2 linked regions of the Homo sapiens genome follow. The protein of the gene in region 1 interacts with the protein of each later gene in a biochemical or structural test. Each region holds a gene or a part of one and is shown in the gene's direction. Other genes may lie near its edges.

What was found.
Region 2: the proteins of RGS5 (region 1) and GNAI2 form a complex in vitro, tested with the Homo sapiens proteins (one study listed by BioGRID).

Annotation. Positions count from the first base shown.
Region 1 is NC_000001.11:163,168,314-163,172,233, reverse strand, and holds part of RGS5 (regulator of G-protein signaling 5), read left to right. Parts: intron 1-3,865; coding exon 3,866-3,920.
Region 2 is NC_000003.12:50,253,099-50,257,018, forward strand, and holds part of GNAI2 (guanine nucleotide-binding protein G(i) subunit alpha-2), read left to right. Parts: coding exon 1-86; intron 87-3,093; coding exon 3,094-3,222; intron 3,223-3,624; coding exon 3,625-3,754; intron 3,755-3,838; coding exon 3,839-3,920. UniProt on the Homo sapiens protein: Guanine nucleotide-binding proteins (G proteins) are involved as modulators or transducers in various transmembrane signaling systems.

The DNA of each region.
Region 1 (3,920 bases):
TCTTGTTTGTTTTCATACCAACTTTGCTGCAAGCTAGGTACTGTATAGAGGTCCCTCCAACATCCATCCCTCTATCTGGAAGGGAAGCAGAGTAACTTCTTTGAATGGGCTTTCTGCTGTCTCACATTTCACCCTCTTGCAGTACAAACTACTTTTACATCCCTTAAAATAACACGCACCCACCCTTCCCTCTGGAACGCTCATTCTTTTCTAGCCCAACTGACTGACTGCTGCTCATTCTCTAGTTCCACATTTGCCTCCTCTGAGAAGTTCCCCCTGATCTACCGTTGTGGACACTGGTGCTCCTCTGTGAGAGTTCTGCTGCTTTCTGGACAGTCTGTCTTTAAGCACCCGTTTGTGATTGTTTCCACATCTAAGACCTCTCCGGGCTAAAAGCACCTTGAAAGCAAGGAGCAAACCTAATGGTGTTTGTATATTTACTGCATACTGCCTGACACAGTAAACATGACCAATGAGTTAATCAGTAAGGAATAAATGAATTAAGTCACTAATAATTCTTTTACATACATTCGATTTCTTTGTTCTAATTATCCCTTAATCTCCAACTATTATTCTTGCATCAGGAAATCAAACACAAATATTTTTCTGCCTTTTACAAAAGCAAAAGGCTCAAATGGAGCAAGAAATAGAAAAAAAAGGAACTAAATTTGAGAGGGGGGATAAAGTTAAAACCAAAACAACCAACCAAACAGAAACCTAAACATGAGAGACTTTCATTACATCATTGTTATCTAAATATTGGTGAGTGGACTATTGTGTCAAGGTTGAAACTGAAAACAGTTGCAGCATGGATTCCACAGATGGGTGCACAGGAAGGGAGGGACCTATGGAGCCAGGAGGATATGGATTATGGATGAAGGTTTTCACGGACTGGGTGGGATACTGTGTCCTAGTGCACCTTGCATCTCTGACTGTAATACTGCACATTAGTCAGCAGAGGGTAGCCACAAATATTGCATGCATTTCTCCTCCCCACTTAATGTTTTCTTCATTTTTCAGATAAATATAAAATTGGCAATTCTTGTCCCCAGAGGTAGAATATAGAAGGTTGTGGGTGTAGTAATTCCTTAGTAACTTGCGGGGAATTTTTTGTATGTTTCAATGTAATGTTCGAAGCTAGGGAACATGGGCGGTGGGTTGGAAAAATGATTGTGTAGTTAGAACTAACTTTAAAGAAGCCGTGTTCTATGCCAAATGCTGTGCTAAGTGACTCACATGCATTAGTATATTTAATCATCTCAAAAAGTCTTAGGATATACTATTTTATCAGTCCAAATTTCTAGGCAAAAGAACTAAACATTAGATAATTTAAGTAACTTGCAACACTTGGAATTAAAGCGACACTTATTCTAATTCACAATGTTATATAAGCTCCCTCGGCAGAACAGTCCCAGTTTTTACCCTAATGCCGTGCTGAGCTTGATCTGAGGTACTATGGGACCTGAGTTGGCTTTAGTCAATGAGAGGGTCTTAGGGAAAGAGTGAAAGCAGAACAAAATGAAAAGGAAATGACACTGTAGAGATGACTGTTCCTAAAACATAGTTTTCAAAACCATATTTACTAGCCTAAAGGAAAATATGTTATAATTAGGCATTTATGGAGTTTTTATAAGTTACCACAGGTTTCCTTACATTTTTTTTCCCTAATATCCGTAACTGCAAATCTTAGGCATTTACTTAAATTGCCTCATCACAGCCTCCCTGTGAACAAATGAGGAAAGTATGTGTACAATAGTAAAATCCTATTTGGCTGCCATGTGAACTTCACCACATCTCTTTAAAACTTTGGTTATGATTAGCATTGACTGGGAGGTAAATGTTAGCAGATTTGTAAAGAACAAAATCAAGATATTTTTAGTTCACTTTGGCAAATATTTTTAAATGTTTACTATATTGCCAAGCATTGTGCTAGGCACAGGGGTTAAAAAGTATTTAAGACTAAATTCCTACCATCAAAAAGTTCTCATATCCAAGTAGAAAAACAGAAACATAAGTCAATGACCATAATGCAATATGATGAACCCTGTCTTAAAAGCATGGGTAAAGTGCTAAGGTGACTGGGAAAGGGTAGCTTTTTGGGTCTCCCAATATTCAACAACTTGTCCTATGGATTAATATTTAAGATTTGCCTGGTGCTTTTCTAGTATAGAATTGTGATAAAGTGATGGATAGATTAGAAGGTTAGTTTTAAAACTGAGCGTGAAAATAGTTGCATCCCGTGATGGAGGAGTACCCAGAATTCTGACCATATCTACTCACTAAAATACTGAAGATACAAAGAAGCAGTAAATTCTGCTGTAGTTTGTTGTTTGGCAATTAGTACTCATTTATCAAGGCTTACTGCACATAAGATAGTCTGACAGCCATAGAGAACAATGGATAAGGAGTTGGAAACAAAAATTTTATAGAGAAATAAATAATCAAGTGGAATGATTTAATTTTATAGCTGGAAATAGCTCAAAAAACATCTAAAATGATGGATAACGTCATCATTTTACAGATGAGGGAACTGAGGTCTGGCAGTAAAAAGTGGTCATTTTACTTCTCAAAAGAAGATATTTATGCAGCCAAAAAACACATGAAAAAATGCTCATCATCACTGGCCATCAGAGAAATGCAAATCAAAACCACAGTGAGATACCATCTCACACCAGTTAGAATGGCGATCATCAAAAAGTCAGGAAACAACAGGTGCTGGAGAGGATGTGGAGAAATAGGAACACTTTTACACTGTTGGTGAGACTGTAAACTAGTTCAACCATTGTGGAAGTCAGTGTGGCGATTCCTCAGGGATCTAGAACTAGAAATACCATTTGACCCAGCCATCCTATTACTGGGTATATACCCAAAGGATTATAAATCATGCTGCTATAAAGACACATGCACACATATGTTTATTGTGGCACTATTCACAATAGCAAAGACTTGGAACCAACCCAAATGTCCAACAATGATAGACTGGATTAAGAAAATGTGGCACATATACACCATGGAATACTATGCAGCCATAAAAAATGATGAGTTCATGTCCTTTGTAGGGACCTGGATGAAGCTGGAAACCATCATTCTCAGCAAACTATTGCAAGGACAAAAAACCAAACAGCACATGTTCTCACTCATAGGTGGGAATTGAACAATGAGAACACATGGACACAGGAAGAGGAACATCACACACCAGGGACTGTTGTGGGGTAGGGGGAGGGGGGAGGGATAGCATTGGGAGATATACCTAATGCTAAATGACGAGTTGATGGGTGCAGCACACCAACATGGTACATGTATACATATGTAACAAACCTGCATGTTGTGCACAGGTACCCTAAAACTTAAAGTATAATAATAATAAAAAAAAGTGATCATTTTTTCCAAATGTCATATATCTAACAATAGTGAAGACCAGAGCCCTCAGAAGACTAGTAGGCAATGCATGCAGAGTTCTACCTGGGAACTCTAGCATCAGACAGCTTGGGCTCACATCTGTCTCCACCAAATACTGGCTGGGTTATCTTAAGTTATTTAAACTCCTGTCATTCCGTGACCTCATCTGCAAAATGGAAATAGTACTATAGTGTCTGCAGATATAAAATGAGAGAACACATATAAAACAATAATGAGGATTAAAATGTAGTGCAAATTAATGAAGGACATACTAAGAGCTTGATAAATGCTATTTATTAGAACTTATATATCCTAATTTCTGCATTAGTATTCTTTCTGCCACAAGAAAAATAAAAGTGAAATGGGATTTTGTTCATTTTTGTTTCTCTGACACAGGAAGAAATCTCTTCTTAAAATCTGTATGCACATGTGGTGTCCTCATTTCCCCTTGTGTCTCTTCTTTCAGGGCCAAGGAGATTAAGATCAAGTTGGGAATTCTCCTCCAGAAGCCAGACTCAGTT
Region 2 (3,920 bases), on another chromosome or scaffold:
GTCATCCGGAGGCTCTGGGCTGACCATGGTGTGCAGGCCTGCTTTGGCCGCTCAAGGGAATACCAGCTCAACGACTCAGCTGCCTAGTGAGTGCTCTGAGGGGCTGGGCAGGGCAGGGCAGGGGCTGGGGGAGGACTAAAGGCTGGACCGGAGGGCCTGAGAACCCCCAGAAGGACACTGCTGGTCTTTGCTTATGAAACCGATGACTGTTAACCAAGGCCTTCCTGTTTTTTGGTTTGGGGGGTGGGTGGGTGTCACGTTACTGAAAGGCCAGGAGGAATGACAGGCAGGTGGCTTATACAGTACATCTCTTCCAGGCCAGTTGAGTCTGATCTGTCTTGACAGTCTTCTAAAGAACATTTGCGGCCGGGCGTGGTGGCTCACGCCTGTAATCCCAGCACTTTGGGAGGCTGAGACAGGCGGGTCGTGAGATCAGGAGATCGAGACCATCCTGGCTAACACGGTGAAACCCCGTCTCTACTAAAAATACAAAAAATTAGCCGGGCGTGGTGGAGGGCGCCTGTAGTCCCAGCTACTCAGGAGGCTGAGGCAGGAGAATGGCGTGAACCTGGGAGGTGGAGCTTGCAGTGAGCGGAGATTGCGCCACTGCACTCTAGCTTGGGTGACAGAGCAAGACTCAGAACATTTGCTGCCACCTGTTCTGTGCCAGGCTTCAAGGACACAGTGATGAGTGGAGCAAAGTCCCCATGCAGTGACAATTTAGGGTGTTAGTGAAAAGGTAGAGGTGGAGTTGGCCCAGAGACAGGATTGCTGAGCTCTGAAGGAGAGTCAGCCAGGGGAGGAGTGGATGAGGGGATTCCAGGCAGGGGCATAGCATGTGCAGCATCTCGGGGTGGTGGGGAGCTGGCTGTGCTTGAACATAGGCTGTGGAGGCTGGCTGGAGGGGGCCACAGGGGAGGAAGTTATCTGGGAGGTGACAGGTGTGTGTGTAGGTCAGAGCCCCTGGACCTCAGCTGTGACCCTCGCTGGCCCTAGGCTGAGGAATTACAAGGGGTCCCAGGAATCCCAGAGGCATGACAAGCCTGCACCCTTTCCACAGTTCTGAACTCCTTCCCTGTGGTATCTGTCATGTACTTGGACTGGTGCAGGGTGCTGAGGACCCCACGGGGAACAGGATAGACAGGCTAATAGCCATTGAGGATGGCTGCAGGGGACATCCACAGGCTTTGGATGGTGTCACCAGATAGGCTGCTGTCCCTGTACTCTAGCCTTCCCCTATCTCTGCTTAAGCCAGTCCCCTCTGACTGGAACACCCTTTTGCTCCTATTGTTCATCCAATCCTGAGCCTACCCATAGGGTGGATTTCAGCAAGGGTGGGTGGGAGGAGGAGGAGGGTCTTGCCTGGCTGTGATTCCTGAGCCCTGTCCAAGCCACATGAACAGCCTCCTCCTACCCTTCTTACATGGCCTGAATGCTCTTGTGAATATGTACCCCCTACAGGAGCTGTGGAGTCACAGCCAAATGCTGTGGGGGCCCCCAGGCCTCACCACTGCCCCTCCCTGAGATCTCTGGCCCAGCCACCAGCGAGCTTGGGGTCAGAGCAGCAGGGACCTTGGTGCCCATGATACTCAAAGGAAGCAGGAATAGAGCCACCTCCAGGCCACCTCCTGCTTCTCCATCATCCTCTTTCTCTATTCTCCAGACATTAGGCACCCACTGTGTGCCCAGCACAGTTTTGGGAGTGAATACAGGCCCTGTTCTCCCAGTCAGGTTTAAGCCTTGATAGCTCCCCCTGGGAATGGGTTGCGGATTGGAACACCACAGGAAGCAGGGCTCCTTCAGCCCCTCTTCGCAGCAACCCTCCAAGTGTGCAGCGAGTCAGGGGGTCCCTGGGGCGAACCCACCTGTTGGGGAAAAGGGAGAGGCTGGTGTGGAATGCACCATGGTACCTCCACATTGAGGACTCTGGCAGTAGGGGGCGGGGCATGGTATGCGGGTCACAGCACATGCGTCATCCTTCCCCATGGCCCTTCCTGTTTTTCTGTTTTGTCCCTGCTACTCTGAGATCATTTCCCTCTGGCCTGGTTTGGCCTGGGTGCTGGTGGGAGCCAAGGGCCAGCCCCAGCAGCCTTGCCCCAGGAATGAAAAGTCAGCTCTGGGCAGCAGCCTGGAGGCCTGGGACCAGCCTCCAGGGCATGGCAGGGATATTGAGGCAGGCAGCAGAGGCAGGCCCTGCAGGGGTAGCCTTGATACTAATTAAGGGAACTGGTAATGAGGAGCCCCTGGGACCCCTGCCAAGCAGGTGTCTGTGCCCTCCCCCTGAGGAACCCAGATTTCATTGGGCGCTGGGCAAAGAGCCCACTGGACCTGGCAGGCCCCAACCTGTCCAGCACCACATCGAGGGACCGCACCCGGCTGCTCTGCGGCTAATGCCGTAATTGCGCCCATTAGCATCCTGAATCCTTCACCGAAGGACTAATTTGCCTCCTCCCACCCTCTTTGCCTATAGCTCCAACATCCTGGATCCTGTCCGAGGCAGGTCTGGCTCAGACCCTGGGTGCTGGAGCTTGGCTGGCTAGCTGTCCACAGAGCTGCACCTCCTCCCATTCCCATTCTACAGGTGGGAGGCCGGGGGCTCTGAGTTCAGGTTTCTTCATTTGAGCAATGAGGTAATGCAGGCAGGGGTTAAAGAAACAAGGGCTGTGCCTAGGCCAGGCGCAGTGGCTCACGCCTGTAATCCCAGCACTCTGGGAGGCCGAGGTGGGCGGATCACCTGAGGTTGAGAGGTCAAGACCATCCTGGCCAACATGGTGAAACCCCGTCTCTACTAAAAATACAAAAATTAGCTGGGCGGCAGGCGCCTGTAGTCCCAGCTACTCAGGAGGCTGAGGCAGGAGAATCGCTTGAACCTGGCAGGCAGAGGTTGCAGTGAGCCAAGATCATGCCACTGCACTCCAGCCTGGCAACAGAGTAACACTCTGTCTCAAAAAAAAAAAAAAAAAAAAAAAAAAAAAGCAAGGGCTGTGCTTGAGAAATGGCATGGGAGGGAAGGGGCCTCTTGCAGCTGGCCCAGGGTCCAGCTAAGGAAGCCCCATGCTGGCCCCCACTGACCCTCCCACCCCCCATCCCCAGCTACCTGAACGACCTGGAGCGTATTGCACAGAGTGACTACATCCCCACACAGCAAGATGTGCTACGGACCCGCGTAAAGACCACGGGGATCGTGGAGACACACTTCACCTTCAAGGACCTACACTTCAAGTGAGCGAGCATGTGGACAGGTGGGAGGGGCAGGACCTGCCAGCCTCTGGGGTAGCAGAGGCAGGGGCTGGTCCAGGATCCCCCAGCCCCACTGAGGTTTTACAAGGCTCATGTGTTCTGGGCAAGCACATCCTCACCACCTAGTGAACCAGCAGTCAGGATCCACGCCACCTCTGCCAGCTGCTCACAGCCTCTGCTGCTCCTGCCTGATGTGGCTGCAGCCTGCCTGCTGTCCAAGCTCCTGGCCCAGAACCAGGGGTGAAGTGGGCAAGTGTGGATGATTCCAGAAGGTAGCTGCCCTACTCTGGGCAGGCCTCTGTCCTCAGTCAGCCAACCTGAGAAATGGGGTAGAAAGCCTCCCCCAGGCTCCCTTCCTGGAACTAAGGTGATCTATATCTGCAGGATGTTTGATGTGGGTGGTCAGCGGTCTGAGCGGAAGAAGTGGATCCACTGCTTTGAGGGCGTCACAGCCATCATCTTCTGCGTAGCCTTGAGCGCCTATGACTTGGTGCTAGCTGAGGACGAGGAGATGGTGAGAGGATGAGAGAATGCTGCGGGTGGGGGCAGCGGGCTTGGGGAGTGGTGGCTAGCGTTGACCTTGCTATTCTACCCCCAGAACCGCATGCATGAGAGCATGAAGCTATTCGATAGCATCTGCAACAACAAGTGGTTCACAGACACGTCCATCATCCTCTTCC